Linked DNA regions of Homo sapiens: regions 1, 3, 4 and 5 are each linked to region 2. Evidence: fine-mapped expression QTL. A gene starts in region 2. Each other region holds a variant in brackets. All regions are shown on one strand. Distances are between the middles of the regions. Region 1 has its middle 17 kb from the start of LINC01891. Region 2 holds the start of ARL4C (ARF like GTPase 4C). Region 3 overlaps TRPM8 (transient receptor potential cation channel subfamily M member 8). Region 4 has its middle 31 kb from the start of LINC01891. Region 5 overlaps LOC105373933 (a long non-coding RNA gene).

Region 1 (4,976 bases), 59 kb after region 2:
CCCCTTTGGCCATTGTCTGGGTGCTCCCAAGAGTCTTCCCTTCAATCCTACTGGGGGTCCCCAGCACCCTGGGCCAGGCCTCTCCCCATATTACCAAAAAGGGTTCAAACTGTTCCCATGAAGCCAACTCTTCATATGGATGGGATGGGATCCCTCGTTACTGAAGAATCACCAAGTCAAGTGAAGCATGAGCTGTTCCCCTTGACCTTGTCTTCTAATTGATCATCGGTTTTTCTTATCAGTTTGTGAGATCTCCTTGTACAATAGGCATATGAATATTTTTGTCTGACATGTGCTGAAAATATTTTTCCAATTTATCACTTTTCATTTGATTAGGTGTATGGTATCTTTCCCTAGGTTATATATATATATATATATATATGATAGATACAAATGACAAATACATGAATATAATTGCACATACACAGTGATTTCCTGTCAAGAGTAATATAGTCTCCCCATGTATAGTTTTCCTTGTCTCTAATTTTATTAAATTGTGTTTACATTTAGATCTTGGATTATTCAAAACATCGCACTATTTCTTCAATCACTCCCAAAGACAATTTATAAAAAACTTAACAGAATCTGATATTTCTAAAATAAATCACTCCAGACCAGTATCTTTTCTCTCCACCCCTCACCGAGACGGAGTTTTGCTCTTGTTGCCCAGGCTAGAGTACAATGGCACGATCTTGGCTCACCGCAACCTCCACCTCCCGGATTCAGGCGATTCTCCTGTCTCAGCCTCCTGAGCAGCTGGGACTACAGGCGCCCGCCACCCCACCCAGCTAATTTTTGCATTTTTAGTAGAGGCGGGGTTTCACCATTTTGGTCAAGCTGGTCTTGAACTCCTGACCTCAGGTGATCCACCCGCCTTGACCTCCCAAAGTGCTGGGATTACAGGCATGAGCCACCACGCCTGCCCTCCAGACCAGTATCTTATGTGAAAATATTTTATTGTATTCTAAGAAAACAAGATTGAGAGCAGAATTGAAATTCTACCCCGCCTGCCCCCGCCCCCCGCAGGCTGACTTCTCCAGCACAGCCCCTCACCTCCATTTCCTCTCCTACCAAAAACATTAGTCTTTCTTCTATCCCTAGACCAGCCCTGGGTGGAAAGACTTATTCGGATCTAAATTTTGAGCTTCCTGTTTCTTGCGGAGTTGATTTACGTTTCACTTTTCTGTTCTAAAAGCATTATCTATTCATTGTAGAAAACAAAAGTGTTATAAATAGTAAAGCCTCCACAAGCGGACATTGTTGGAGGTCTCAGCATCTGACTCTCGCCTCCATCTCCAGAGCCATGTCTTTCCCCGTAGCTGCTATCCAGGGATGGGCCCCCAGCCCGCCGAGAGCCAGGAGACCAACGGTAGCCTTACCTGTGGGGAGAGGCAGCCCACTATCCTTCCAGTCCCTGAAAGCTACTGAAGGGAACTCTGCTGCTCTGGCGGTGGGGGGTAGGCAGCCTTCAGCAGAGGAGGCAGGGCAGCACCCAAGGCCCTGGAGGGGGAACCCAGAGATGCCCTTCAGGACATGTTGTCCCAGACCTGAGTGTCTGATCTGCTAATGCTGTTATGCAGAAGGTTGGGATGAAACGCCCCACTTGCCCCACTCACTGGAGCCACATAAACCACCTGAGCTGGAGCGGGTGTCTTAGTCGGGCCTGCCAGGTGGCTGGAGGATGTGGGAGAGGAGGCCTGCTTCTCGTCCAATTCTCCTCTTCTTTGTCCAGAAATAGGCACACAATGAGGAAGGCGTCTGATTCCAGATGGCAATTGTCCCAGAAAAGCAGGTGCCCTGCACCAGTGTGGACATGCATGCGCATTAATCTAGCCATTTCCATTCAGGGTGCCCACGCCTTACTTCAGAAGGGGGCTCAGTTCATGAAAGGTGGAAGGAACCCAGGAGCGGGAGAAAAGAGTGCTGATGAAAATGGTCTTTGTTCTAAAGAAAATCCCCAAGGGAAGCATCGTTTGGTCGCTTGGTTTTGAATGGATGGAGCACAAAGCAAAGCCTCAGATGTGGTCAGTTGGGAAGGGAAGCACTCAAGCTGAGACAAGCCACTGCAAGAAAGCAAGTGGAGGGGCAGGTTTTCTTCTGCCCTCTCTTCTTCAACCCAAGAAGAGCTACCACATATTCACTGAGTACCACCCTGTGCAGGGAGCAAGGGCTGGGTGGTGGGAGCCTGCAGCCAAAGGACACGGGCATCCTAGGGACAGAGAAAACAGTGCCAACCAGGGATCCCTGTCTACAGCGTGGGAGATGAGGAGCAGAGCTGCTTATGGTCCTGAAAGAAATGGGTCTGAAGCAGAAGAAGAACACTTCTTAGGGTGGCCACTGCAGCCCGTTTGAGGGTCTTTCCCAGCCTGTGAATGCAGACAGATCAGGAGAATTTATAGGAACCAAATACGGGGGACACCACTCTCCCCTGCTCTCTCTTCCACCAAGAGAAGCAGTGCCATGGTGCCTGTGGTTATGCATGCTTGAAGGTCCTCACTTGGTCTGCTTCTTGCACTCTCTGCTGGTGGTGTTCCCTCGGGTACCATGAGCAGGGGCACCCACAGGGAGAAGAGG[C/A]CAGGGTGAGGCTCAGAGCCAAGGCTGATGCCTATGAAGGGAGGCAGCTGAGTTGGAGGCCACAGCGTGGATGGTCCCTGTCACTGGGGAGGGACAGCATGTGGAGCTTTCAGCTTCTCCCAGGGTGGGTGGTATCACTCAAGGAGGAACCAACAAACCCCACTCTTTCCCTTTCCCTCTCTCTTGACTTCCCTCCATCTTTCTTACCTTTCTTCCCCCCGCAAACCTTTATTGAGCACCTACTATATACCAGGGGTGATTCTAGGAGCCGGGGAAAAAGCAGTAAACAAAACAAATGCTTGTCTTTGTGGTACTTATACTCAGATGGAGGACAGGTCAAAGAAATACTTTGATGTTAGAGTTCAAGACAGTGCACTGCTTGACAAAGAAAGAAGCAAGTCAAGGAGAGAGAGGGCAGGTGGAACCCGCCACAAAGTGGCCTCTGTGTGGAGGGATGTGGAGCGACTGCACCGTCCCACTCGGTGTCCGTGTGGGGTCTGGGGCTCAGGACAGCCAGCACAGGGACTCCAGGGCTCCCCCATACACTGTGTGGTGCCTAAGGGTTCCAGTGGGGCAGCCCAAGTGTGTGCACTGACCTGGGCCAACATGCAGGGCCCTGTTATGCAAGGGAGAAGGAGCAGGGACTCGGGGGGAGCGGCGCCACAGGCATTCTGGTGTGGTTTCTCCAGACCCGCCTGCCTGGGAGGAACCTGATTCTGCAGCTCGTCACCCCTCAGCCCTCCCACAGCCCCTGCAGCAACTTCCAGGTCTCTGCTCTGCAACAGTGGTACCTCCCCTCAGCATCCCTCCCCACCAGTCTCCTGGAAGCTTCTCAGGCTTCTCCACCTTTGCTCCTCCATAAAAAAAAAAGTCCCACACCAAGCTCACTGGGGCCATGCTGGACTCCACCGGGCACCATGAACTGACCCAAAACTGGAGCACCAAGTCCTTCAGCGTTGGCATTGGGCAGGAAAACAGGAGACAGGCAGGTCACCAAACCACCAGAATGCAGAGTTTAAAAATAGCCTCTCGGCACTGCCCTACTTCTCCTGAAATGATTCCATTGGATCTGGTCACATTTTTATATTCTGGAAGCACTCGAGATGGATTTTCACAATACACATTAAAGCCATCTATGTGGTATTTAACCAAAGACAGGCAGATTCATAAGGAATCAAAAAGGATTTTAAGACCAAGGAGTGAAGCGTGGGGAGACCTGGAAAACCGTAGTTGGGCAAAGGAAATGGATTTTTGTACTCTGGGTGTGTGTCAGAGGGAGGGGTGGGGAGGCACTGTGTCAGGAAGTGGAAATGGCCCTGCTGGGGATAGAGATAACAGAGCTCTGAAATCTGGGAGGCGAATCCTCCAAAGGCTCAAGCCATTGATCTGCAGAGACCCTGCAAGGAATAGCAGGCCTCCCCCAGCCCATTCCAGGAAAACACCAACTCCACCAAAAACCAATGTAGGAAATCCACAGGGTTCAGCCTTCTGCCTGGCCAGCAGTGGCCACTCACCCCACTACCACCATCGGTTTCTCCTAGTCTTTGCCAGCAATCCTCTGGTTTGAATCCAATAGGGGAAGGAAAAGGAAAGAAAACACAAGCTTTTTTTTTTTTTTTTTTGAGACAGTCTCGCTCTGTCGCCCAGGCTGGAGTGCAGTGGCGTGATCTCGGCTTACTGCAAGCTCCACCTCCCGGGTTCACGCCATTCTCCTGCCTCAGCCTCCCAAGTAGCTGGGACTACAGGCACTCGCCACCATGCCCGGCTAATTTTTTGTATTTTTTTAAGTAGAGATGGGGTTTCACCGTGTTAGCCAGGATGGTCTCGATCTCCTGACCTCGTGATCCACCCGCCTTGGCCTCCCAAAGTGCTGGGATTACAGGCGTGAGCCACCATGCCCGGCCCACAAGCATTTTTATTCAACAGATTCTTACTGAGTGCTCCTGCGTGCCAGTGCTGTGGTGGACATGACAGCAGAGGATAGATGGACAATGCTGTCCTCTCTTGGACTTTGCACTCTGGGGCCACAAAGCAGAGCAAAACAGATAATACGTCTATAAAAAGTCAGGTGGGGATGAGTGCTACGAAGGGCAATGGGCCAGAGTGAAGGATAGGATAGACGGGAGCCCTCATGGAGGGTGCTCTTGGAAATCAGAGACAGGAGAGCCTGTGAAAATTGATGTCTGTTTTTCTTTAGTCTCTGCGGGGGAGGAAAATAAGCACTCTTTCTCCTGCATGGGTCATGGCTGATACTCTTACTGGAAAGGGGTCCGGATCCAGTCTTGGATCTCAAGAAAGAAATAATTCAGGGGAAGTCCACAGAGTAAAGTGAAAACAAGTTTATTAGGAAAGTAATGGAATAAAAGAATGGCCACTCCACAGACAGAGCAGCACCAAGGGCT
Region 2 (6,324 bases):
TATGTCCATGAAGAAATAGGCTCAAAGTAGGCCTTACATGTCTGATATGAGTGGTAAACATTACCTTCCTTTTCATAATTCCAGTGTTTTTCAATAAAAATCCACATTTGAAGGAAAGTTACCAGTCGACTCAACCAAATGATATTTTTATGTGTTAGAAGTTAAATTATCAACTGTAAAATTAACTTATCACCTGGTGAGTGAAATTAGCAGGTAGAGTGGTTGCTATTCAATTATGGTGAGTTGCTGTTTAATGGCTGTGTTCTGGAAGGCTCTATTAATGTCTATTAATCTGTTTTTTCCTACTGGACAGCAGACAGCCCTTTATTGCTAAACCCCATCATGGTGGTGCAAAATGTGGAGGCTGCAGTCAAAACCACTGAGGCTCTTGGTAATAATTAGCATAGCACCAAAAAGATACATCGGATACTTTACTAAAATATCTCCTTCCTACCACCTTAAAACTTAAAGCAAGTCTTGACTAGGGGAAAAGGAAGTAACACAAAGGTAATCTGTGGAAGCCGGATGGAGAGGCTTCCAGTCTGATCTGTCTCTTTCCAAATGTCCAGGTCCCAGGCTACTAAACCAAAGGCTCATCTTGGGTTGGGGCTCAGCCTCGGCCCTGCCTGTGGCAGAGAAGAAAGAGAAACAAGAAACAGTCTCATGAGAAGCTGGCTATCTATGGGGCAGGCATTAAAGAGAGTCAAGAAAATCACTCCAAAAACACAAAATCCTGTCTCCCCAGGGTTCCCAATAACGGAAACATCATCATTATGAATTATGCCAACATATGTTGTTTCTGTTGCCTCACTAGAGTTGCTCTTTTGGTGACAGATCCTGGATTCTTCTTGGAGAACCACCCTTCCCGATTTCAACCCCTGGGCCACATCCACTGGTGTGTTCCCTCCTCCTGGACTGCAGTCCTTGATCCAGGGTGCGTGCTCCAGGCTTTGGTTAGAGTTACTGGGAAAGAGTTGTACCTTTTCCTTTCCAGGATCTAAACCAAGGATGTGAGTCCAAGGCTGCCAGAAGGAAAAAGAATCAACACAGGGGAACACGGAGGAGGACTGGAGAGACACCTGCTCGAAAGACTCCTTTTGAGCTCCTGGGTCTAGCCATGCCTGAAGAGGACCTTTATCCTTAACTTTTCAGTGATGTCAGTGAATACATTTCCATTTTTATTTAAAATGAAGTAAGTGGCACAGTGCAGCCAATATTTTCTGTTGAACTCTATCCTTCGGGTGGCTCACTTTATTCCTCATTGAAGGAAATAGCGTGTGGGTAGAGTGGGATGTGAGGAAGAGGGCAGGCAGGTGCCCAGTTTTGTGCATACAGACCCTTGGTCCTGGAGCAGGCAGTGGGCCTCTAGGTTCTGCCTTAGCCGTCACGGGCGCCTAGGCCTTGTTACCTCACTGGACAACGTTGGGTGGAATGATAGGCAGGGTCCTTTCCAGCCTGATACTTCGTTTCCAGCCCCAAATCCACTCAGTAGAGTGGATGGTCGCTCCGGCTGCCACCTTGGGAATTCCAAGGATAGGGGTGGTGGTGGCTTGTCCTTCCTTCTACAGGTGAGGTCTTCTCACATGCTTTGGTACCAACGATATCATATGTCTTTTCGTGGTTTGTGAACAGAAGGTGATAAAGTATTTCTCTAAAATTCTAGCTTTTATTCATAAATTCTTAGCATTTTCATTTTCTTCTCCCTTGACCCCGTTTCCGTCGTTTCTGTCTCATAAGCTAGAGCTGGGAAGATGCGGTCGCCCATGCTGCGGCCTGCTGTCTCCTGCGGAGCAGCTCTCCCCAGATCTGTGTGTTTGCCATAATATACTCTCACTTTTCTCCGCACCCAGAGAGGATATACATTTGTTACATGTTTACAAACCAGAATAAAACCATTGAACTGAGGTGACAGGAGGTGGAACCCGTGGAATATCAGTGTTTGTAACCCACTGCGCCACCAGCTCCAAGCTGTAGACACATTTTCTTTCAGCCCCCGGGGCTGGTGTTGCCATTTCTGCGGAGTAGTTCACCTGCGGGCAGGTGGTTCTCAGTTCCCAAAGTCGGGTGGCAAGGGGTGCTCTCCCGAAATGCTGACGCTTCCCCTGGGATGTCAGCAGAGTCGATGCGGACGAAATGAGGTAGCCCAGGCGTGTCTGGGAGGGTGAGCTGTCCGAGCTACTTGGGGCAGGTAGGTCTTCTAATCCCCCATCGCGGCCTAGGTCCGACCCTGCCCCAACCGCCGCCACCGGGCAAGAAAGGCTGGGCCTCCAGGGTGCCCTGGGCACAGGCCTGGGCTCCGGAGGGCGGCGCTGGCCGGGTGCAGCCCCCTGGAACCCAGGCAGGAGGCGAGCCTGGGCGTCACTGGGGGCCGGGGCCGGCGACAGCCGCGGCGCGAGGGTGGGAGGGGACGCGCCCGGCTGGATCCAGAGCGCAGGCTGGCAGCTCACCGAGGCCAGCCCCGTCCCGTCCCTTCTGGGGTTTGGAGGCCCCAGCCTCGCCGCCCTCACTCCCCAGAGCGGCGCTCTCCCAGTCACCCTGGGGGCCGCCCTGCCCCGCCTCGCGCCCACAGAGCTGGGACCCCGGGACCCACTCCCTCAGGCAGGCTGCGTCGCCCACGGCTGCGGCCCGGAGGGGCAGGGGGCGGGCTAGGACCCGGGCGGGGATTCCGGGAGCCGAGAGCTATTTTTGCAAACGCGTCAGCCGCTGGGGAGGAAGAGCCGGCTCCGCGCCCATTGTGTCTGCGCGGCGCGGCGCGGGAGGGGCCGGGGGGCGGCGGGGGGCGGCGGGGACGCAGCGAAGCGCGCGAAAACGGCCGGCTGGGCGGGGAGGACCGCGCCTGACCCCCGGCGGCGGGCGGGGCGGGGCCCGGGGCGGGTCCGGGGGCGGGTCCGGGGCGGGGCGCGAGGGGGCGGGTCCGGGAGCTCTCCGGCCGCTGCAGGCTGGCGGCTGCTGCGGCGGCGCGGGGACTGTGAGGCTGCCGAGCGGACAGCGACTCCCGGGGAAGCCCGCGCTCCGGGAGCGGGAGCGGGAGCAGGAGCAGGAGCAGCGCCGTCCCAGGCCAGAGGCGAGCGCCGGGCGCCGGGAGAGCGGAGAGCCCGGGCAGCTGCCGGAGCGCGGGGGCGCGGCCCGAGGAAACCACAGAGCGAGCCCAGGCCTGGGGAGGGCGCCGAACATCTGAGGCGGCTTCGCGGGAGACAAAGCCGCGCGTAGAGACGCGATGCCCGCCGATCGCGAGCCCGGCCGGCGAGGGCGCGGGGACTGCGGCGTCTGAGCGCGCCAAGCCGTGCGCCCGCGGGGACGCCGAGCCCCGGGGCCGGTGCGGGCGGCGGCGGGCGGGGCCCAGGTGCGCCCGGCCGCGTCGGGCCCGTGACTGCTCGGGGGGCGGCGCCCTCCCGCCGCAGCCGCAGTGGCTGGCGCCGCAGCCAGGAGCCATGGGCAACATCTCCTCTAACATCTCGGCCTTCCAGTCCCTGCATATCGTCATGTTGGGCTTGGACTCGGCCGGCAAGACCACGGTGCTCTACCGGCTCAAGTTCAACGAGTTCGTGAACACGGTGCCCACCATCGGCTTCAACACCGAGAAGATCAAGCTGAGCAACGGCACGGCCAAGGGCATCAGCTGCCACTTCTGGGACGTGGGCGGCCAGGAGAAGCTGCGGCCGCTGTGGAAGTCCTACAGCCGCTGCACGGACGGCATCATCTACGTGGTGGACTCGGTGGACGTGGACCGGCTGGAGGAGGCCAAGACGGAGCTGCACAAGGTGACCAAGTTCGCCGAGAACCAGGGCACGCCGCTGCTGGTCATCGCCAACAAGCAGGACCTGCCCAAGTCGCTGCCGGTGGCAGAGATTGAGAAGCAGCTGGCGCTGCACGAGCTTATCCCGGCCACCACCTATCACGTCCAGCCGGCGTGCGCCATCATCGGCGAGGGCCTCACCGAGGGCATGGACAAGCTCTATGAGATGATCCTGAAACGCAGGAAGTCCCTCAAGCAGAAGAAGAAGCGGTAATGCGCCCGGAGCGACCGGGGAGCGAGCGAGTGCGTCAAGAAAGAATGAATGGATGGATGGATGGTTGGATGGATGGATGGATGGATGAGCGAGAACCCGCGCCCGCGAACAAAGAGCGAACCAAAGCGATGCTTCGAATTTTTAAAACGGAATCTCTGCACCCAAATGCAGGACTGGTGACTTAAGGAGCTGCGAAGTCTGATTTACCGGCCTACTCTCGACCTGCCCCCCACCCCCAGCTCAGGGGACCTTTTGTCTGAACGCCAGAGCTACTGACCAGGTCGGGGGGCCGCGGTGGGGAGTGGAAGAGCCGGTCCTGCTGTCCGCCCTCCCAGCCCCAGGTGGAAGGCTCAGTTGTCGGAAAGACAAAAGCGATTTCTTCCCACTCCTGCAGGGCCAGAAGTTCAGGCTGCCCCGCCTCCACTGGGGGATCGCACCTGTGAATTACCTGAGGTATGCATTTCCCAGAACCGTGGGCGTACCCACCTTGGGGGGCATGTTGGTTCTGGGGGGACCACCTCTCCTTGCATTCAGGGGCTGTGAAGCTGAGTAATTTTCGGTCACAGGGCAGGCCCCTGTTGAAATTTCATTTGTCCTGCTCTGGGCCCAAAGGTGGTGGTGGTTTGGGTCATCAGAGGACTGCCTGGGACGGTTCAGCGGGCACGGAGCGCTGTGCTGGCCTGGCTGGGGATGGCCGCGGAGGTGCCCTTTTCCTGGTGCTTTGTGGTGGCTGCAGAAGACCAGTTTTGTTGAGAACTGCTTTTCAGCCTGGAATCAGACATCTTCCAGATGGTTTGGACCCTGTCCATGTGTAGGTCATTATCACACAAAGAGACCAATAAAAATAAAAAAAATAAAAAAAAAAAAAGACGAACTATTGGAGGTGGTGGCCAATGATGCATTTACTGTTTGCAGGATAGTTAAAGGTGTTTAAAGGGTAAGGCTTTTGGTGTAAATGCTGGATGGGGTGTGTGTGTGTGTGGATATAGGGACCTCCCTCTGTACTGTGTACTGTGTAATCGGCATTAATACCTAGACTCATATGTATGGAATTTTAAATTCTCTTAGCCTACTGATTGGTTTGGATGAGCACACCAGCTGCAGGTGTGTGCTGAATTGCAAGATGGTATTTTTTTTTTTAACCAAGGGATGTCTCTTGTAATACTAACCGCGTGATAATGGGTTTTCAGACATGATGAAAAAAAAAAACTTTTACAAATGAATACTTACCTTAGAAATATTCACCTTAGGAAAAAAGACTTTGCTCTGCCCTTTTATATTCCTTTATGCTGCAAGTGGTGACATGTTCAGATTTCTAATTTGGTTCATTGTGGCCTATCTGGTTTAAGTCTTTCATTAAAAATGTCTCGTTAGAGTATTTGATGTCATGCACCAAAAAAATAAAACCCCACCTTGTTGCAAAAGCTGACCTCGTTGCATGGAATTAAAAGAGAAGGAAAAACACAAGGATGAAGTCTTTCCGAATTCATTCTTGTGGGAACTGGCCTTCGGAGCCAGCCAGCACTTTGGGCAAATGCAAACAACAATGAGTGCTTGAGATAAAAGAAAGTGTGACGTCATGGTCACTGGTACTCAGGCACTTCACAGTTTACTTGAAAGAGGCTTTGGAAAATAGATAAAGTGAAAGAAGAATAAATACATATTTTTAATAATGTAATTTTAAAAATCCTTTATAATCAGGACTGAGTCTTGGTTTGCAGAAGCTGTCACTTACCCTGAAACACAGTATCAAAAGGGAAACTTAAAACATACTGTTTGATTTTTTTATTTCCTCTTACAATCCATGTTTTCAGGTAGAATTATGACTTTCCCCCCATTGTTACACATTTCTTTACAAAGGAGGCCTGTAGAAATTGGACACGATCATGCTTGAGCATGTGAGTTAGTCAAATTATGAGTCCCTGCCTATTGTCCATTACACACCGAATGTTAATTTAAGAACCAGAGGCAGAAGTTCTGGCTTCCTGCTTGAAACCCAATTCTTATATGAAATTTTTTAAAAGCAGAAACCTAGCAGCCCATCTGCTTTTTCTCTTTTGTCGGTGTATTTGGTACCCCTCCAATGCTGGTCTTTTTGTAGAAACTCAGTAGAGAAAGTCTAGCTAAGCAGTGTTGAAAAGCCTGCAAGATTTCAGTTTACATATCGACAGCATATCCACTGATTTCTAAATGGGCTGGTCCCATCATCTGAAGATTCTGTATAGAATTATTAAAAAAAAAATCCATCTTTCTTTATTTTCTTCACATGCGACAATTTCTTAAGCACTTTGACATTTTGGTAGTTCCACACTAT
Region 3 (6,324 bases), 510 kb after region 2:
GGTATTATTCCAAAGGAAGCAATAAGTCCTATTGAAAAGAGAAACTTCCAGGATGCTCAGAGCAGGGGAAAGCATTCTCTCTGGCAAGTGGGCCCCCCATCTTCCTCAGAGAGCTCAGAGTGGAAACGCAGCCCACAAGAGTCCAAGTAGGAAGAGATTTATTGCACCATGGCTTAAGTGGCCACTTGGAGTCAGGGAAAAACATGTCTTCTAGATCATCTAAAATAGGGATTGGAAAACTGCAACTTGGGACCAAGCCAAGCCCCCCACCTGTTTTTGTACAGTCCATGAGCTAAGAATGGCTTTTACAAAGCAGGGAGGTGCAGGTGGGTACAGCATCACTGAATACTGCTTCTTTTGACACATCTGACCAATGACCCTAGCTGGCCCTTACAGAGAAAGTCTGTGATCCCTGAGCTACAGTGCACGTAGGCCAGTGCCCATGAATAAGGCTTTGTGTTTGTATCATTCCCTACTTTTAAAGAGCTCTGCCTCATAGGTCACCAATCATTTGTTCCTCAGGACAACTGGGTTGACTGCACGGCCCCTCCTGCTGGAAGAGTAGCTTCCTCTGTACCTCAAGGGCAAAGGTGGATCCAGTGAGCAGCAATGCTTTCCCAGACAAATAGCAAGAACTCTTATGGGCATCCCAGGGGGTGTGAATGAACCAGCTGATAACTGGACATTAATACCCAAAAGCCGTTTTGCATAAATAATGCATATTCAGGATTGGCTAGGCTGAGATTTATTTATACACCGAGGTACAGCTGACCCATATGGCAGCAGCTTCCAAAATGTTCTTTTTCTCTCAAGTCAGTCCAGGACTCAGCCAAATAGACATGAGGGTTCTCCAGAGGGGGGCTCCTAATGGAGCGATGCTTCCACCTGCTTTCCTAAAACAATGTTTATATTCTGTAGACATTGTTTTCAAATTCTGTAAAGGGGAGACTGAACTCTGCAGAAAAGGATTTTCTGGGCCAGCACGTGCACACCCCCTCAGCAAAGCAAGCATTGTAGCAGCTTAGAGACCATCTCTCATGCCCAGGGTCTCACCCGCCCCATCTGAGATGGTTCTTAAAGTCTCCTTGACAACCAGTGGCCATCTGGTGTTGTCCCTGAGAGAATTCTGCAATTTTCCCTTTGTGCATCTCCAGCGATATCTTGTGCCCTTGGCGTCCTGTCCCTGGCAAACACCTAGCTGGCTGGAGACATGCAGTGACAGCTGAGGTCCATCTCCTGAAACCAGCTGAGCAGGAGAGGAGGAGGAAGGAGAGGCCATGCAGAGGGACAGCAGTTCAGAAACTCACTGAGAGTGGAAATGGTACCAAGAGGGAACAGACGTTTAGAATTCAGATCACTTTGTACATAAATGAAGTCCAGAAGTACCTTAAAAGAATAACACACCATGACCATGGAATAGGATGACTAAATATTAAGAACATTTATGTCATTCATCTTTTGTACAATGCATCATAATACTAGATCAAAGGGAAAAATAGCATTTCAATAACTGCTAGAAATCTTCTGGCAACATATAACATCCTTTTCTGATTAGGAAGAGAAAGAGAAAGGAGCTTAATAAACAAAAAAGAGGAGGAACTTTCCATGACATGATAAAAAGAAAAAAAAAGAAAAGTAATTTAGTAAGGAGACTCATTCCAGAATAAATAAGGAAAACTTTAATAACCTTCTTACGTACCAAAACGTAGTCACTGAAAAAACATAATAGAAAAAGTACCTTACTTTTTTCCCCCTACCATAAGTGGCTGGAAACAAATTAACAAGGAATCTGCCAGATCCATATGAAAAAGACCATAAAACTTTACTGGGAAATTATATATGTTTGAATAAATGAAAATCATAGCATTTCTTCTCAATAGTAAGATGCCAAATTCCCTTAAATGATTCTACAAACCTAACATCATCATAATAATATTCACAAGAATTTTTGGGGGAAGGAGAAAGAAGAAAGAATCCACAAGATAAGCCTTAGGCTCCTCTGTACAATTAAATATACAAGAAATGCCAGAAAAGTTTTGAATAAGAATAATGAGGGAAACTTGTACAACAGATGTTAGAACGCCTAAAAGAAAAAAATACTTCAGTAATCAAAGCCATTTGGTAGTAAAAACCAAAATACAAAGACAGATCCACAGAACAGAATGCAAAGTCTGCAAAAAATTCACAAGGAAAAAGTAGATGCTAAAACAATGGCAGAATTTTCAAATACACTGAAATACAAGAAACTTGTCAGCTAATTCCCTATCAGATGGACACCTCCTCCAAACTTTGCGTAGATTTCATGGATTTTCCTTTGTCGCTCCTTCCCCAGCACACAGGCAGTATCTAGCCAGTACTGCCCCATGGCCCGTGGTGACAGTGACTTTTCGCTCTCTCTGATGCGCTGGTGTGTATGTTAAACTGTGTAACACATCCTGGTTCCCCTCTCATTCTGCAACATCAAAAAAGCAGGTACAAAGCCAACAACAGCCAGCAGTAAGAGATGACAAGCGATTGGATCACACTGATTTTGGAATTGATAATTCAGGTTAGTATATTGCTAACAGAATAACCAACTAAGACTGTGCCATATACTTGCACGAAGACCCATGACATTTCTCTTCAACTTCAGGAAAAAGTCCAAATTCTTTAATATACTATAAAAGACTCTCCATAACCTAGCCCCTGCCTACATTTCCACCCTCCCCGGCTGCTGATTCCTCCCTAGACTAACATTATCTCCCCTGCTTCTACCTCTCCTACCAACACTTGGGGCTCTGGGTACATGATCTTTCAAGCAAACATCACCTCCACCTAGCTGCTGCTGCAGATCCTAGGCTCCCCCAGCCAACAATCTCACAATTAATAACTCCCTCCTCTGCAAATAGCCTCTCCATGCTGTTTGTATTACATTATATTATATATATTATATTCATATGTTTCCATGTCATCTCTTCCCTTAATATCAGGGACTTAACCTTTCTCTGCCTCCCACTCCTTACGTGTAAAATGGCAATAAGGCTGCACCTGAGGCAGGTTAGATGAGGTGGTCAGAGCCTCCCTTGACAGGAAACAAGAAACTTGTCAAATTGATGAAGAGAACAAACCACCTAACAGTGCACAGACCGCATCCTGAGCTCGTGGTTAGAACACCCTACAGCAAAAAGGCAGGAGCAGAAGAGAAAAATCCCCACATTTGTACAAGCACAGAAACC[C/T]GTGATTAGTGTCCTTGGGCTGACCTGTGCTCATTATAATAGTAAAAAACACACCCCCAGGTGGAGATTTAAAATGCTTATAAGACATGCGATGGATGTACTAGCATGTACAGCCACTGCACATGTGGACCTAAGAAACCACTCCTAACATGCTTAATAGCAACACCCCTTACCACCCCTTCATGAATAATCATGCAAATTTCCCATAAAGGGAGATCCCCCAGTATTAGACAGAGCTGTCTTGCCTTTGAGTGGCCCGTTCTGACCGGCTGCTAGAGTGTACTTTGGCTTTGCAGTCAACTCTCTTGCTTGCTTTTGCTTTTGACTCACTTTCAAATTATTTTCTGTCCCAAAGTCAAGAACCTGAACTAGCCCACCGGCTACACACCTACACAGAAATGAGTAATAATTAAATGAGGCGACCCCTGTAAAGCACTTGAACCTGTGCCCAGCATGGGAAAGCTTCAATAAATATTAGCTATTGTTACTATTACAATTATCTGCGCTCTTCTTTCTATTCTTTTCACCCCAATTCAATAACCTCCCTTAGACTGTTCACACAGCACTCAAACCTTTAGTTTGTATCAGGTCATTATTTTCTTCCTTCTACTTTTCTGCATGTTTATATTACTCCTAAGATCTGAAAAACATTTTTAGAAATTATTCTACAGCAGGACATGTTTGACGAGTCCTTTTCAGAACTGCCTGGGGTGAACTTATCTTCAGGGCACAATGCTTATAAATGCCCTAGCTCCTGGTAAGTCGACCTGGAGTCATTTACTGACTTTAAATTCACTTCCTGCCGCTGATAAGCCACACAGGCCCTGTGATCGATAATTTTAATGTAGAATAATCACAGATGTTCACATCCATTTCCTTTCTCTGTTGAATACCATCTAGAGAGCACTCCAATACTCCTTCAGAATTCCCAAAGGTACATTTGCATTGCAGTTAATAAGGTTGCCATTGTGTATGGTTAAGCTTTTAAATGAGTATTTTGATGTGGTGCCAGGGAAGGGTCACATCCTGGGGCCATCTGCTCACAGAGTAAGCCCTGAACAACTTTAAAAATGATCAGAAACAGTGTTCCAAGGATTTAACCTAAGGATAACAACACGGCGTCTCTCGCTGTTCTGGTGTCCCCAGACAGGTATTAGCCAGGAAAAGGCCTCTGGTTTAAGCCGGAGCTAATCGAGGAGGTTCCCCAAGGACAGGGATGTTGCAAGCTGTCACACTTAAGCACTGACTGGGGCAACAGTAGGATGTGATGCAGTGGCTCTGGCCTCGTGGGGAAGAGACCTGAGTTAAGCCAGATAACGCGCGGCCAGGACCACAGACGCTGAGCTGCTGGGACTTCATCTCCTTCACCTGAAAGTGACAGACGAGGCTCCCATCTTTCTCAGCTCCAAATTCAATCATTTCATTATCAAAATGCAGGTAATGGATTACAAAAGTGCCCGGTTCTCATGAATGGCTCCTTCAGACAGCTCATGTGCATAGATTCAAAAAAGCTCTAAATATTTTACCATGTGCCTCGTTGAGATTTACCAAGTTAGCATAACTCAAAGGCCATGGTTTTAGGAGCTGTTGGTCTTTTTGTTTAATGTCTGTAAATATAGTTAGTGGTGAGTTCTTACAGGACTATCCAGTGTAGCTATGACATCTTATCACTGTAAAGAAAAGCCTGAAGCCATCCCACTTCGCCCTCGCCTTTGCTTCAGGTTTTGGGATTGGTCTGTTTTGCTCCCTCTCTTGTGGAGACATAATCACCCATAACCTGCTGCTTCTCTCTGCAGCTCAGATGTTGGCCCCTCTGACTTTTGGACACTATTTGGACATCATGACATTGGCTGGCTGCCTGTGAGTCAGACAGGCTTCTGGATCCTCAAGTCCCTCCCTGCCACCAGCTAGGTGGTGAGGGAGAGTTTCCCCTTCCCTTCTTAGGGCCATGTGGAACTAGCAGCCACATAATCTTCATGGCCCAGGCACCTGGCACAGAGCAGATGTTAAACCTTTACATGATGATTCTCTTGCTGATTTGTTACTCACCATTGGTGCTTCTCAGTATATAATACACCAGGAAGCTAAGCTCCTAATAACTAAATAATGAACTAAACATGGGTAAGAACCCATTTTTTTCATTCATTGAATAAACCCACAAAGTGACAGGTGCTGAGATGGCGGGCACAATCTTCACCCTCCAGAGTTCGCCATTCTCAAGGAGAGAAGGTTGTTACCATGCAAGTAAAAGAGTGCCATAGGGGCTCAAAGAGTCTCTGTGTGAAGTGGGGAGGCCATCAGGTACCACCCTGGCAAAAGATGATTCCTGGCTCTGTAAAGGGCAAGCAGAAACTGGGCAGGAAGAGAAGTTCGGGATGGAACAGGCAATCCAGACAGAGGACAAGTATGTGCAAAGCATCAGGCATAGCAGTTCACCCTGTTTAAAGAGGAGCATATGGGAGGCCTGCCGGGGGACAGAGAGCAGGGGATGAGCATGGTGGGGAAGCTGAGAAGACTGAAATTTATCCTGAATGCTGTAGGGAAATATTGAAATCCTTCCAGAATTTTAAGCAGAACAATGACTGTGTTAGTCCATTTTCACACTGATGATAAAGACATACCCAAAACTGGGCAATTTACAGAAAAAAAAAAAAAAAGAGGTTTAATGGACTCACAGTTCCACGTGGCTGGGGAGGCCTCACAATCATGATGGAAGGCAAGGAGGAGCAAGTCACGTCTTACGTGGATGGCAGCAGGCAAACAGAATGAGAGCCAAGTAAAAGGGGTTTCCCCTTATAAAACCATCAAATCTCGTGAGACATATTCACTACCATGAGAACAGTATGGGGGAAACCGCTCCCATGATTCGATTATCTCCCACTGGGTCCCTCCCACAACTTGAGGGAATTATGGGAGCTACCATTCAAGATGAGATTTGGGTGGGGACACAGCCAAACTACATCGGTGATGTTTTAGAAACATCACTTTTGGTCACAGTGTAAAGAAGACTGGAGTGGACTGGAGAAGGACATCTCTGGACACTGGGAGACCAGATGGCCACACACTGCTCAGCCCCTTTGCTATGTGATGTCCCCAGAGGTATGTGCTT
Region 4 (6,324 bases), 74 kb after region 2:
AACTGACACAAGGTGACCTGATAGGGGAAGGAAGATCTGTGATTCATTAACACTCTCTCCCTTCATCTTTGTAATCGTCATCATTTTCATTTCTTCCAGCAGTCTCAGGACCTGCCTCCAAAGGCAGGTCCTGAGGGTTCACAAGAAACCTAGAGCTGGGCGAGCTTGCTTCCCTCCTGCTGGGTTCAGCCCTAACTGCCTCTTCCTCAGCCCCGCCCTGCACACCTGCAGTTAGGGCACCGAGGCAGCCCTAACGCTTCTGAGGAAGTGGGTTTTGTGGGTAGGTGGAGTTCTATGTCCCAGAGGGTGAGGAACTGGGCACCACACCCATCCCTGTATGCAGTGGGTAGAGTGGCCTAGAGGGCCAAACCTGGGAGGAGGGTAGGGAGGACCCTCTCTGGCCCATCCTCTGCTTCTTCCCGCATGCCCCTGAGGGCTGCGTTGATGTCCTCATTTCCATATAACTCCAGTGACACAGAAGCTCCTTGTGAAGTGAGCTTTCCTGCCTAATTGAAAGACACCAGCAGAACATGACTCAGGGTGGCAGTCGTCCTGCCCTGGCACTAGGCAGGTCACCCAAACCTCCTTGTTCCTCCAGATGAAGATGCTAAAGCCTGGCCAGGTGAAAGAGGAAGAGGCAGGTCACCCAAACCTCCTCATTCCTCCAGAAGAAGATGCTAAATCCTGGCCAGGTGAAAGGGGAAACTCAACCCCAAGGAGTCAGGTCCAAAGGGACGGGTCCCCAGGGACTAACTGGGACAGGGGTCTGAAGGGACCACCAGCAGGTCAACCCACCCACCAGCCTCACCCGTGCTGTGTCCCCAGACATGAAGCCAAGAGAGCAAGTTCCCTAAATTCCCTTCCCACCTCTGCCACGACCAGCTGGGTCTTATAGTCACTCCCTGCCCGGCCTCATTCCCAATAAAACCCAACCACCAGGGGCCCCGCCACTGGCTACCACTTAGCTCGCTCTCACCCCCATCCCTGTGACCTCCCCCAGAATCTCCTATGGCTTTTCCCACCACCCTCCAACCATTACCAGTGAGGCTTGGGCCCAGGGTGTGTCCGGGCCTCTCTTGCCACCCACCACCCTTCATCTTTGTAGCCCGCTTTCCTGCAAGAGGGAATTCTCTCTTCCCATTACAACAGGGCCTGTGGCTTGAGCACCCAGGGTGCATGTGTACAGACTTGGGGAGCAGGGGCTCAGCTCCAGGCACTTCTAGGACCCTGGACCCTGAAATTTATATAGTGTTCCTTTATCTGGTAGCTCATGTCACTCATTAAGAGTTGTTCCATTTCTGGTGGGGTGCGGTGGTTCACGCCTGTCATCCCAGCACTTTGGGAAGCCGAGGCAGGCAGATCACCTGAGGTCAAGATGAGCCTGGCCAACATGGTGAAACCCATCTCTACAAAAATACAAAAATTAGCTGGGCATGATGGCAGGTGCCTGTAATCCCAGCTACTCAGGAGGCTGAGGCAGGAGAATCGCTTGAACCCGGGAGGCAGAGGTTGCAGTGAGCCGAGATCGCGCCATTGCACTGAGCAACATGACTAAGCAAGACTGTCTCAAAAAAAAAAAAAAAAAGAGTTGTTCCATTTCCTAATTTTGAAGGGTTTCATTTTACAAAGATTTGGAATGTGTATTTCTCCCAGAACAATAATTTCTTTTTATTTGTTGAAATGGTGTAAGCAGAAGTGTCATGCTAAATGTCTGTACATGGTTTCCATTCTCTTATGTAAACTCCATTTTTATAAATAGAGAATTCAATTTGATTCAACTTTAAACAGATGCTACAGTTAATTTTGAGCAATTGTTAATATGTGTGGGAACATGCTTTGAAAATAAGTCCGTGATCCCAATCTGTGCTCTGAGTGTTTTCATTGAATTGAGCACAGAAGTCCAATTCTGGAGAGATGAAAACACAACAAAGCCAAGATGATTTGAAACTGGCCTTATCTAAAGTTTTGTTCCTTTAAAAAATCAAAACGTCATTTATTTTCCTTCCACCCCAGCCCCCGTCTTCCCAGCTTTGATCTTTCTACTTGTCAGAATATTGCATCAATGACACTGGAAATATTTATTCAACAAATACCTATTAAGCCCCAATTAGAGGCTGGATGTTGCATTTGGTCCTGAAAATTAGACAAATACGTTCCCTGTTCTCAAGGAGCTTATAGGCCTGGGTAAGGTAATTGCAGACACCTGAAGTATAACATACACCTGAAGACTCTAACAGGGACACCTATCTCCCGAAAGGATCGAGGCATGGCCCTCCAATTAGGTTGACTTCAAAGTGTGAGGGGAGCCCAGGGGATTTCCAGTCCTAGGAAAAACCTTCACAGCCACCAAGAACTTTCATGTTTTAGTTTTCAATTAAGCCCTTTCCTTACATAAATTTTCTTCTGGATTCAAAGTCATTCAAAATGATGATTCACTCTACCTGGCAAAATATGCCGTCTTTAAAATTATTAATATAATTGTATCAGTTTTCTATTGCTGCTGTAGCAAATTACCACAAATGTGGTGCTTAAAACAAACCAAATTTATTATCTTAGAGTTCTGAAGGTCAGAAGTCTGGCATGAGCTAAAATCAAGGTGTTGGCAGGGCTGTGTGTCCTTTTAATATTTTTTATTTTTGGTGGCCTTAACAGAGGGTTGATATTTTGTCACATCTCATCGACCTGTCTATTATTATTATTATTTTTTGGTGGGGGATGGGGACAGGGTCTCGCTCTGCACTACAGGCTGCAGTGCAGACAAAATTGTGGCATGGCTCACTGCAACCTCAACCCCCCTGGGCCCAAGTGATCCTCCTACTTCGGCCTTCTGAGTAGCTGGGACCCCAGACATGCACCACCATGCCTGGTTAGTTTTTTATTTTTGTAGAGTCAAAGTCTTACTATCTTGCCCAGGCTGGTCTCAAACTGCTGGACTCAAACAATCCTCCACCTCAGCCTCCCAAAGTGCTGGGATTACAGGTGTGAGTCACCGCGCCCGCCCACCTGTCTCTTCTGCCTCCTTCCGCATTTAAGGGCCCTAGTGATGGTACACCTGCATAACCCAGGTGATTTCCCTATTTTAAGGTCAACTGATTGACAACCCTAATTCCAGCTACAAACTTAATTCTTTACCATGTCATATAACACATTCATAGGTTCCTGAAATTAGGACATGGACATCTTTTGGGGGCAGGGTGGGGGGATGCCATTATCCTGCCATCTACAAGAATATAGTTGTAATTATGTGACGTGCTGACCTCCTGTCTCAGCATCATGCTGTGCGGTGCAGACCTGAAGCTGTGAGCACACACCCTGTTGAC[G/A]GAAGCAGCCGCTCTCCTATGTGATGAGGCTGTGGTTATCATTCTCCTCATCCTGATACCTCTTTTCTCTCACTGGGGATCCCTGCCAGCTTCTGCAACACAAAACTTCATTTTTATCTCCTAGTCTATTTGTTTTGTTCCCTAATAATGTCGGGTTTTTTTCTATGGTTTCTAAAATTCTTGCCACTGTTCAGCCATTTTTATACTTCTTGGAACTTTTTGAATTTTGAATAAGTAAATAAATGCTCAAATATGCATCAAACTCTGTAAATAAACAGAAGCAATTACAAGTTTTAGAAATAGTCTTATGCATTATGGTAAACTCAAACTCAGTGACGTGTTTGAAGTTACTTGTCATAGAATTCCTCAGCTCAGATTTAAGCTCAATTCACATATACAGTCCCTACCTTCTGGTTAATGTCAACATTCATGAATAGGCGTGGCCTTTGCAGGAGTGAGCTCAGGGAACCATGCTCCATGAAGCTCAGGGAAGCATACCTGAGTGTCCTATGCATGGATGACAAAAATCATTCCTTCCTTCCTAACATAATTGACCTTTACACTTTATGAGTAATGGTTACATGAAAAACACACCCAGCTGAAGCTTGGGGAAATATATCATGACTCACTCATCCATTCCACAAATACTAATGCAAGCTGTTGGCATGCTTGTATCTTAATATCAGGGCCACGTGCTTCTTTGCTGTCCGGGCTCTATCTGATCTCAAGGAACAGAGACAGCATGGCAGAGGTTACCATAGTTAATGGTGTTCAGCTTGTTTATCTTAAAGATATCTACAGGTAGAAAGAAAAAAAAAAAGGAAACCAGTATAAATGCTCCTGTAGAGGCTGCACACAGTAGAAATCAGTCCAACCTCATATAAACTGATTGACATATAGGCTTAAAGTTGGTCCTCATAACCCAGTTATCATGGGAAGCCACAGAAGTCCATGTCTCCTGCTTGCTATCTGAGCACACTTCCATTTAGATGAGTTGGTACTCGCCGGGTGCGGTGGCTCATGCCTGTAACCCCAGCACTTTGGGAGGCTGAGGCAGGTGGATCACGGGGTCAGGAGTTCGAGACCAGCCTGACCAACATGGTGAAACCCTGTCTCTACTAAAAATACAAAAATTAGCCAGGTGTGGTGGCGCTCACCTGTAATCCCAGCTACTCAGGAGGTTGAGGCAGGAGAATCCCTTGAACCTGGGAGGCAGAGGGTGCAGTGAGCACGGAGATCACACCACTGCACTCCAGCCTGGGCGACAGAGTGAGATTCCATCTCAAAAAAAAAAAAATGACTTGGCAATCCCCTATCTTCACTTCTGCATGTGCCACTACCCACTAAATACAAATACATTATTGCTCAAGCCATGTCAAGCGGATATTTGCTGTTATTTGCAATCATACTCATTCTGCTGGTACACTTCTATTTTTTTTTTTTTTTTAACGGTTAAACCGTCCCTATTTAGGACCACCTGAATGTGATAGTCCTGGGGCGATCATGTAAAAAGTAGAATGGAATCATGCTCATGGAAGCCATCTGAACGTTCAATATTAACGCAAGGCAGGGCAATTATTACTACTCAAGCATCCCCAGAGGGACAAAGGGAACCTCCAGGGACCACTCAGGAAATAATTAAGAAATGCTGGAGGAGTAGCTTTTTTTTTTTTTCAAGACAGAGTCTCATTCTGTTGCCCAGGATGGAGTGCAGTGGCGTGAAGTGATCTCGGCTCACTGCAACATCCGCCTCCCAGATTCAAGCAATTCTCCTGCCTCAGCCTCCCGAGTAGCTGGGATGATAGGCACATGCCACCACGCCTGGCTAATTTTTGTATTTTTAGTTGAGACGGGGTTTTGCCATGTTGGCCAGGCTGGTCTCGAACTCCTGACCTCAGGTGATCCGCCTGCCTCGGCCTCCCAAAGTGCTGGGATTACAGGCATGAGCCGCCTTGCCGGAACTGGAGGAGTAGCTTCTTAAGAAACCACATAACAGGCCGGGTGCAGTGGCTCATGCCTGTAATTCTAGCACTTTGGGAGGCTGAGGTGGGCAGAACAGTCCCAGAACCTGTAGCTGGAACTACAGGAGTGTGCCACCACACCTGGCTATTTTTTTTTGTATTGAGGAGGTTTCACCGTGTTTCCCAGGCTGTTCTTGAACTGCTGAGCTCAAGCAATCCACCCACTTCAACCTCCTAAAGTGCTGGGCTTACAGGCGTGAGCCAGTACGCCCGGCAAGAGTCTACATATTCTGAAGTTATATTCCCATCAATTCAGATTCTGACCTTTCTCCAGGAAATCAAAGAATTCTCTATAAATATTATCTCCTTGCAGCCTCTGCACTGCAAGCAGGCTGACGTCATGTTTGGTTTGCAGTTAGTAAGGAGCAGTTTAACTTGGGGGCTGCAGCCATGGAGTTCAGAGGTTAACAACCAGGCAGCAGCTTTTTGTTCCTGAACTGGGTGGTGCTGCTATTGACAGACCTTCCTTCCCACCCACAACCCCCGCTCTCCCCCTTGCTGCCTTGTTTAGAACCACACTTCTGGGGGCCACCCTTGACAGAGGTTAATTTGAAGTCTCCACTTGGCTGGGCTATGGTGCCCAGATGTTTGGTCAGAGACCAATCTGGATGCTGCTGGGAAGGTACTTTTTAGGTGTGATTAACATTTAAATCTTCTGACTTTGAGTACAGCCAATGATCCTCCATAATGTGGCTGAGCCTCATCCAATCCAAAGGTCTTAAGAGAAAAAGCCTGAGGGCCTGGCATGGTGGCTCACGCCTGTAATCCCAGCACTTTGGGAGGCCGAGGCGGGTGGATCATCTGAGGTCAGGAGTTCGAGACCAGCCTGGCCAACATGGTGAAAACCCATCTCTACCAAAAATACAAAAATTAGCCAGGAGTGGTGATGCATGCCTCTAATCCCAGCTACATGGGAGGCTGAGGTAGGAGAATCGCTTTTGAACACAGGAGGCAGAGGTTGCAGTGAGCCAAGATAACGCCAC
Region 5 (6,324 bases), 200 kb after region 2:
CCAGGAGGCAGAGGTTGCAGTGAGCCGAGATTGTGCCATTGCACTCCAGCCTGGGCAACAAGAGTGCAACTCTGTCTCAAAAAAAAAAAAAAGGAAATGACAATTTAGTCAACCTTCCTAAGACTCAAAGAAAAACAAAGGTGAAGAAAATATACCAAATTTTGCCTCTTCAACTAGTAATTAATGCTAGCTATTATGAAGATGTGGTAGGAAAGCCATACATTTTCATATCTAATGATTTGGGAAAATAAAATTTTACAATCCATTTGAAAATCCATTTGGCAGCTTGTGTCAAATGCTTAAAACATTTTAATATACTTTAAGTGGAAACAACCACAAAAGTTTAAATTGTATATGTAATCAACGTAGAGTAAATAAAAGTACTGGGAAAAGGGAAGAAAATATTAATATGCCCAAACCTTGCAATATTACACGCTGGATATTTGGTGTTTTCTTTTCCATATTTTTTTTCTAATTTTTAAATTTTTTACAATGACTTTTATTTTCAGCAAAAAAAAAAAAAAAAGATTAATAACACAAAGTGCTAAGTGGATTCCACGCACCACTCCAAAGAAATCACTGTTGCTACATTGTCACAGCATCACAGGCATTAAGATACAATGCTGAAACAAACAAACATATCACTTTGTTCATAATAGAATGACAGCACATTAATCCAATCAATAGATAGTTATTTGGTGATCTCCATGCAATCTCCCACTAAATGGAATTTTCTATATTTTATTCAACAGAAGAGGTCATGTTTAGACTTAAAGGTTAATGAGTAGGGCTTCTTCAGGCAGAAAGGCAAGAGGAGCCCTCCCAACCCAGCCCCCAACTCATCCCCTGGCACAGGAGGACCATGCACCTGGACAGGAAGCCTGGGCCAGCTGTGTGGGCAGAGAAGAAGGTGGATGAATGAGGAGGTACACAGGAAGGTAGGGGATGGATGACTAAGAGCCACAGAGGAGCTCAGAACTGCCCCCTGTGGAAGTCGGGGGCGTGAGTGATAGAAACTCGGGAAGGATTTTGACCCTAAACCTGACATAATTAGCAGTGTCTGTTGAGGAAGGATCAGCAATGCAGAGAATAAACTGAGGGGTGGGGAAAGACTGTACAGAGGGCGACTCCTCTGGAAGATGATGAAATTCTAAACAAGGGCAATTATAGTTGAGACAAAACCAATAATGGATTAGAATTTCAGCTCCCCAGAGGGCTTTCTGGGGGGGCCATTCCTGTTTTCCCCTAAAGAAAATAGTGGGCCAATAGTAGTATATAAATATTTGTTGAATGAATGAATCAGGAAAAAGATACACTATATTTCTTTCTTTCTTTTTTTTTTTAAAGACAGTTTTAGCTCTTGTTGCTCAGGCTGGAGTTCGGTGGTATGATCTCAGCTAACTGCAACCTCTGCCTCTCGGGTTCAAGTGATTCTCCTGCCTCAGCCTCCTGAGTAACTGGGATTACAGGCACCCACCACCATGCCTGGCTAATTTTTTTTGTATTTTTAGTAGAGATGAGGTTTCACCCTGTTGATCAGGCTGATCTTGAACTCCTGATCTCAGGTGATCCACCTGCCTCGGCCTCCCAAAGTGCTGGAATTACAGGCATGATACACTATATTTCTTATAATGTAATGCTGGAAGGGCCTGATGAGTTCCTGAATGTAAAAGGTAGTGATGGAGGATTTCAGAAAGGCCACAAACAATAATTCCTCAAAACAATGACATCTCAATCAGTAAATTCATCCAGTGTTGCCTCATACATTTCTTTAAATATTACTGCATTGCAGTGATTCTGGTTATAACTCTACAGGCCATCAAAATATTTTCAAAGGCCACTGTTTTTCTTGTAAATGTGAACATACGCATTGTATAGAATAAACTCCTTGCTAGGATTAATAAAAAAGCTTTTTTTTTTTCCTGTTTGGTTTTCTTGTAATTTTAGTTTTTTTTTTTTAATACAGAAGTGTTACATTTTTATCCAAACATGACAAAGTATCTCTTTGATATCTGATACTTCCTCAAAACTGAACCATTGTTTCAATGTCAATTTCCTCATGCAAAGTGTTATCACTGGGGGAAACTGGGTGAAGAGTACACAGAATATAATATTTCTTACAACTGCAGGTGAATCTACAAGATCTCAAAATAAAAAGCTATTTTAAAAGCCTGAATGATTCACCTTCCTCACTGATGATCTTTCACACTGTTATGTCAAAAGGAAATCTTGGATTTACATACAGCCCCTGGAGATGGTTCATTGTCTTGTCATTTCTTTTTCATTGAGCCCAGAGGAGAAGATTGTTGCTATGCTGTTGTCATTGCAGCTTTTCTTTTTTTCAGTTGCATTTCCAAAGTAAATATCTCTCTTATTTGCAGCCTCTAAATTGCAAGATTGTCGCCATGGTTATTCTTGCTGCTCCTCTGAGCTTTATCACTTCCTCTCCGGATGCGGTTTGTTCTGCTTGTAGGTTTGCCTTCGCCTCAAAGGAGCGAAAAATGAATCATTTCAGAGTGCTCTGTGCACCAACATAGTGCGATGTTGTCTACCTTTATATGATTCAGTCGAAACGACATGGAAAAGTTCCTGGTTTAATTGATATGGTCCTCTGATTGTTGTTGACAACTACAGATACACTGTCCTAGCCATGTGGATGGCAAAAGCAGCCCCATATATGTCATCTGGGGTGGCGTTCAGGTGGTGAAGATGGGAATTGGTTGTGCAGACAAAAGTTTTGCCTGAGTCTCTTCCTGTCCTTTGCTCTCCTCTTGTTGATTCTGCGAGGATGTCTCTGGTCTTGAGGCATCCTGTGGCTCATATGGTCACCTGTGGCCCTCCAGACTTTATCACCACCAGGCTCATTCCAGAGGCCAAAATGCCAGTGGTTAGAGGGTGTCTGCATCTGACCTGCAGGAGGTGAGATACTCTTGGCTGGGTGTGTCTGGTTGCACGAACACCCTATAGTCCATTG[C/T]CCTGTTTATGTGTTTTCTGTCACTGTTGCAGCCACATCCTTCCTGGGAACTGTAGCACAGCCTCCCAGCTGACGCCCCTGAGTGCCCTTTGGCCCTTCTCCAATCCATTCTCCACAGGCAGCTGGAGCAATCACTTTAAAATGCACAATTGATTACATCACACCCTTGCTTACTGCCTTTAGTGACTCCCACATACCTAAAAATAAATCGAACTATGGCACGTGCTCCCCTGTCCCCTCCACCACACATGCCTGCCAGCTAATGGTCCCATCTCTGCAGGACACCCTCCAGCTGTGTGCATCAGGCACATGCAGGCCAGGGCCCCTTCAGAACAACTGTGCAGCAGCCATAGGCGCAGCATGGAGCCCAGGGATTCAGAAATGGGGAGGAGTTGAGCTTGGTGTCCTTGCCAGTGTCCTATGAGTTTAGGAGTGTGATATTATGAGATAAATATTTGGCCTTTGAATCCATTTCCTGACATACACCTCCTAAAATCCTTAGAATCTCCAAAGTGATGTACTTTTGAATGCTGATGAGTTGGCTGATGGCTGGCAGCCCCTAGGTAGCTTCAGGGTGAGGCTGGTCATTGGAAAGACCAAGGCAGGATTAGAGGGTTGAGATTTTCAGCCCCACCCTGAACTCCAGGGAGGGGAGAAAAGCTGAAGGTTAAGTTGACCATCAATGGCCAATCCTGCCTATGTCACAAAGCTTCCATGAAAACCCAAAAGGACACAGTTCTAAGAATTTCTAGGTAGCTGAACCCATGGAGGTTCCCGGAGAGAGTCACACTCAGGGAGAGCATGGAAGCTCCGCACCCCTTCCCCTATACCTCGCCTATCCATCTCTTCATCTGTATCCTTTGTAACATCCTTTATGGTAAACCTAAGGGTTTCCCCGAGTTCTGCGAGCCACCCTAGCAAATTAATAAAGAGGGGGTCTTTATCAATTTATAGCTGGTTGTCAGAAGTTCCCGAGGCCTGTACTAGTGAGTGATGTCTGAAGGTCAGGGGTGGTCTTGGGGGACTAAGCCCCCAACCCCTGGGATCTGACGCTGTCTCCAGGTAGAGAGTGTCAGAACTTAACTGGAGGACCCCCAGTTCATGCCGGTGTCCATGTCTGGGCAGTTTGCTCGGTGGTGGGGAGAAATCCCCACACATTTGGTCGTAGAAGCCTTCTGTGTTGATTGTTGTGGCGCGGCGTGAGAACAGAAGAACTGTTGGAGTTTTTTCACCCTCAGAGAGTGTTCTCACTTCTGGCTCCACTTCCTCCCAAGGTGTCTGGGGCACGAGTTCTGCCGGATGGCAGCGTAACTGGCTTTGGTGTTGATTTATGAGTCACCACTGGGGTGAGATGAGGGAGGCAGACTCAAGTACGTGATTACAGGGCACCAAGAGACCACCTGCCCAACAGATCTTCACTCATTGCCTTACCAAACCTGAAATTACCTTAGCAAAAGCAAGTAAATGTGGCCACTCTAGGGCCCCGACCTGGATTCCTAGCCAGACCAGCCACTGGTGCTCTCTATCTGATGCAGCCAGGTTGGTCTCTCTCAACCTCCCCAAACATGCCCATGCCTTCCTGCTCCTCTCTACCTGGGCATGGGCTATGCCCACCTCCAGGAGGTCCACCATGAAGGCGTGAGCCCAGTAATATGGAAATGTCTGTTATCAGGGCCTTTAGGGTATCCTGTGATGGTGGGAAGGGGATGCTAGCACGGGGCCAGGAACAGCAGGAGGTTTGAGGCTGCATTGGAGAAGGACAGAGCTGGGCTCTTGAATCCTAAGGCTTTCATCTCAGGCATGAATCTGGTGACATCAGGACATTCTCCAGAGCCCATTGGTACAGGCAGATTAGGGCAGGTTTGAGAGATTCTAGAATCAGGTAGATAGTACATTTTGGCATGTCTAGATAATTGAGCTTAGAAATCAAGCAATCCAGCCCCTCACTTTACAGTTAAGGAAATGGAGGTTCAGAGAGATTCTGAGCTCTTCCCCATCTTACATCTGGAAGAGGCCAGGCCAGGGCTCAGATCCAGGGCCTTTCATGAAGCAGCCAGGGCCACATGCCTGGATCACAGCTGGAAAGCTATGCCCTAGCAGGGCTGCTGTTTGCAGCTGTTCAGGCCTTGCCTTGCTTTTTATAGACTGAAGTATGAGCAACACTGCCTGGGGGTGAGCAGTGCACACACTGCACCACTGTCCGGGGAGGCTCTGAGTCAGAGTCAAAGCAAAGGCCTGAGAGCTCCCATCAGAGAGGTCCCATCTCTTGGGCTGGGCTGGGTATGTGGTGAAAATGGAGGCAGGAGGGTGACTCGGAACCTGGACAGCAGTGATGGGTCCCCATCCATGGACACTGGAATTTAGGGTGGAAGACTGGCATTTGGAAAGGCAGGTAAGAACAGACCACTGCCCTGGAGGAAATTTGGGTCTGGGTATAAAGGCATAGAGTGGCAAGATGAGGACCACTCCCCAGAGTCGAGGGTTCATTTGGTCATGAGGGGTCATGAGGGAGGCCCTTGTTACTGCGCCTAGAGTTCAAAGTGCTGCTCACTGAGCCCATGAGCACCTGGCCGGGACACAACATCCTTCCTCCTAGGCTGTGGGCCACACCAGAGCCCAGCCAGCTGGTCAAACTGAGTCAGGAGCAGAGTCCAGCAGGCTTTTACAGCAGACAGACCCTGGAACTCAAAGGGCAGGAGCAGGGCATGGACAGGGGCCACAGTCCCTACAAGCAGGCAGATGCCAAGACCTCTCTGGGAGGTGAAGGTTCAGGTAAAGTGAGCCACGCATCACCTGGGGGTTCAACACTGAATAAAGTATTGACAGAAGTTGGTAATCCCTCAGAGTCACAGGAGTTCAGCTTGCAAGCCATTTGTATGTCACTGTTGTATTTGATTTCGCAAGAACCCCGTGATGAGGTGTTGTCACACGCATGTTACCCACGTGAACTTCACAGGTTACAGGAATGGACAAAACGGGAATTTGAACCTAAGTCCTGGCCTTCCTGGGACGCCCATCCTGCACCACCGCGCCCTCTTCTGGTCACAGAGGGAACTTTTGATGTTAGGCTCAGCTGGTCGTGGGCCCTAACGTAGGGAACAGAGAGGTGTAGGCACTTGACTCAGGTGATGGTGGAGAAGGGCGCGGGGGTGGCTGTAATTAGGGCACAGGTGAAACAGGAGCTTCTAGTAGGTAGATCCTGACCGTGGAGAGAGCATCACGTGTCTGAGCCTGTAAGCAACATTTTGCCGCAACAGGGATGGGAGAACAATTCTCCCAGGCAGCTGCCTCTCACACCGCATCTCTATGTGTTCCCCACAGGCCGTTTCTCCTGCTGGGACACTTTTCCT

The links. PIP is the estimated chance that this variant, and not a neighbour inherited with it, causes the effect.
Region 1: its variant is fine-mapped to the expression of ARL4C in whole blood (INTERVAL, PIP above 0.99).
Region 3: its variant is fine-mapped to the expression of ARL4C in whole blood (TOPMed, PIP 0.92).
Region 4: its variant is fine-mapped to the expression of ARL4C in whole blood (TOPMed, PIP above 0.99).
Region 5: its variant is fine-mapped to the expression of ARL4C in whole blood (TOPMed, PIP 0.97).

Annotation. Positions count from the first base shown.
Region 1 is chr2:234,434,919-234,439,894 of GRCh38, reverse strand. No RefSeq gene overlaps it. Among named protein-coding and RNA genes, the nearest start is that of LINC01891, 17 kb to the left of the region's middle. The variant C/A (reference allele first, on the strand shown) is at 2,575.
Region 2 is chr2:234,493,694-234,500,017 of GRCh38, reverse strand. It overlaps ARL4C (ARF like GTPase 4C), which reads left to right and starts at 2,937. Exons shown (of 2, transcript NM_001282431.2): 1 at 2,937-4,006; 2 at 4,182-6,324. The coding sequence starts at 3,432. The coding sequence ends at 4,212. RefSeq lists an enhancer at 1,902-2,675 and silencers at 2,860-3,149, 3,260-3,359.
Region 3 is chr2:233,987,521-233,993,844 of GRCh38, reverse strand. The region is part of intron 21 of TRPM8 (transient receptor potential cation channel subfamily M member 8); the gene reads right to left. Among named protein-coding and RNA genes, the nearest start is that of SPP2, 60 kb to the left of the region's middle. RefSeq lists an enhancer at 3,269-3,318. The variant C/T (reference allele first, on the strand shown) is at 3,216.
Region 4 is chr2:234,420,038-234,426,361 of GRCh38, reverse strand. No RefSeq gene overlaps it. Among named protein-coding and RNA genes, the nearest start is that of LINC01891, 31 kb to the left of the region's middle. The variant G/A (reference allele first, on the strand shown) is at 3,321.
Region 5 is chr2:234,288,789-234,295,112 of GRCh38, reverse strand. All of the region lies in intron 2 of LOC105373933 (a long non-coding RNA gene), which reads left to right. Among named protein-coding and RNA genes, the nearest start is that of LINC01891, 160 kb to the left of the region's middle. RefSeq lists an enhancer at 4,101-4,150. The variant C/T (reference allele first, on the strand shown) is at 2,975.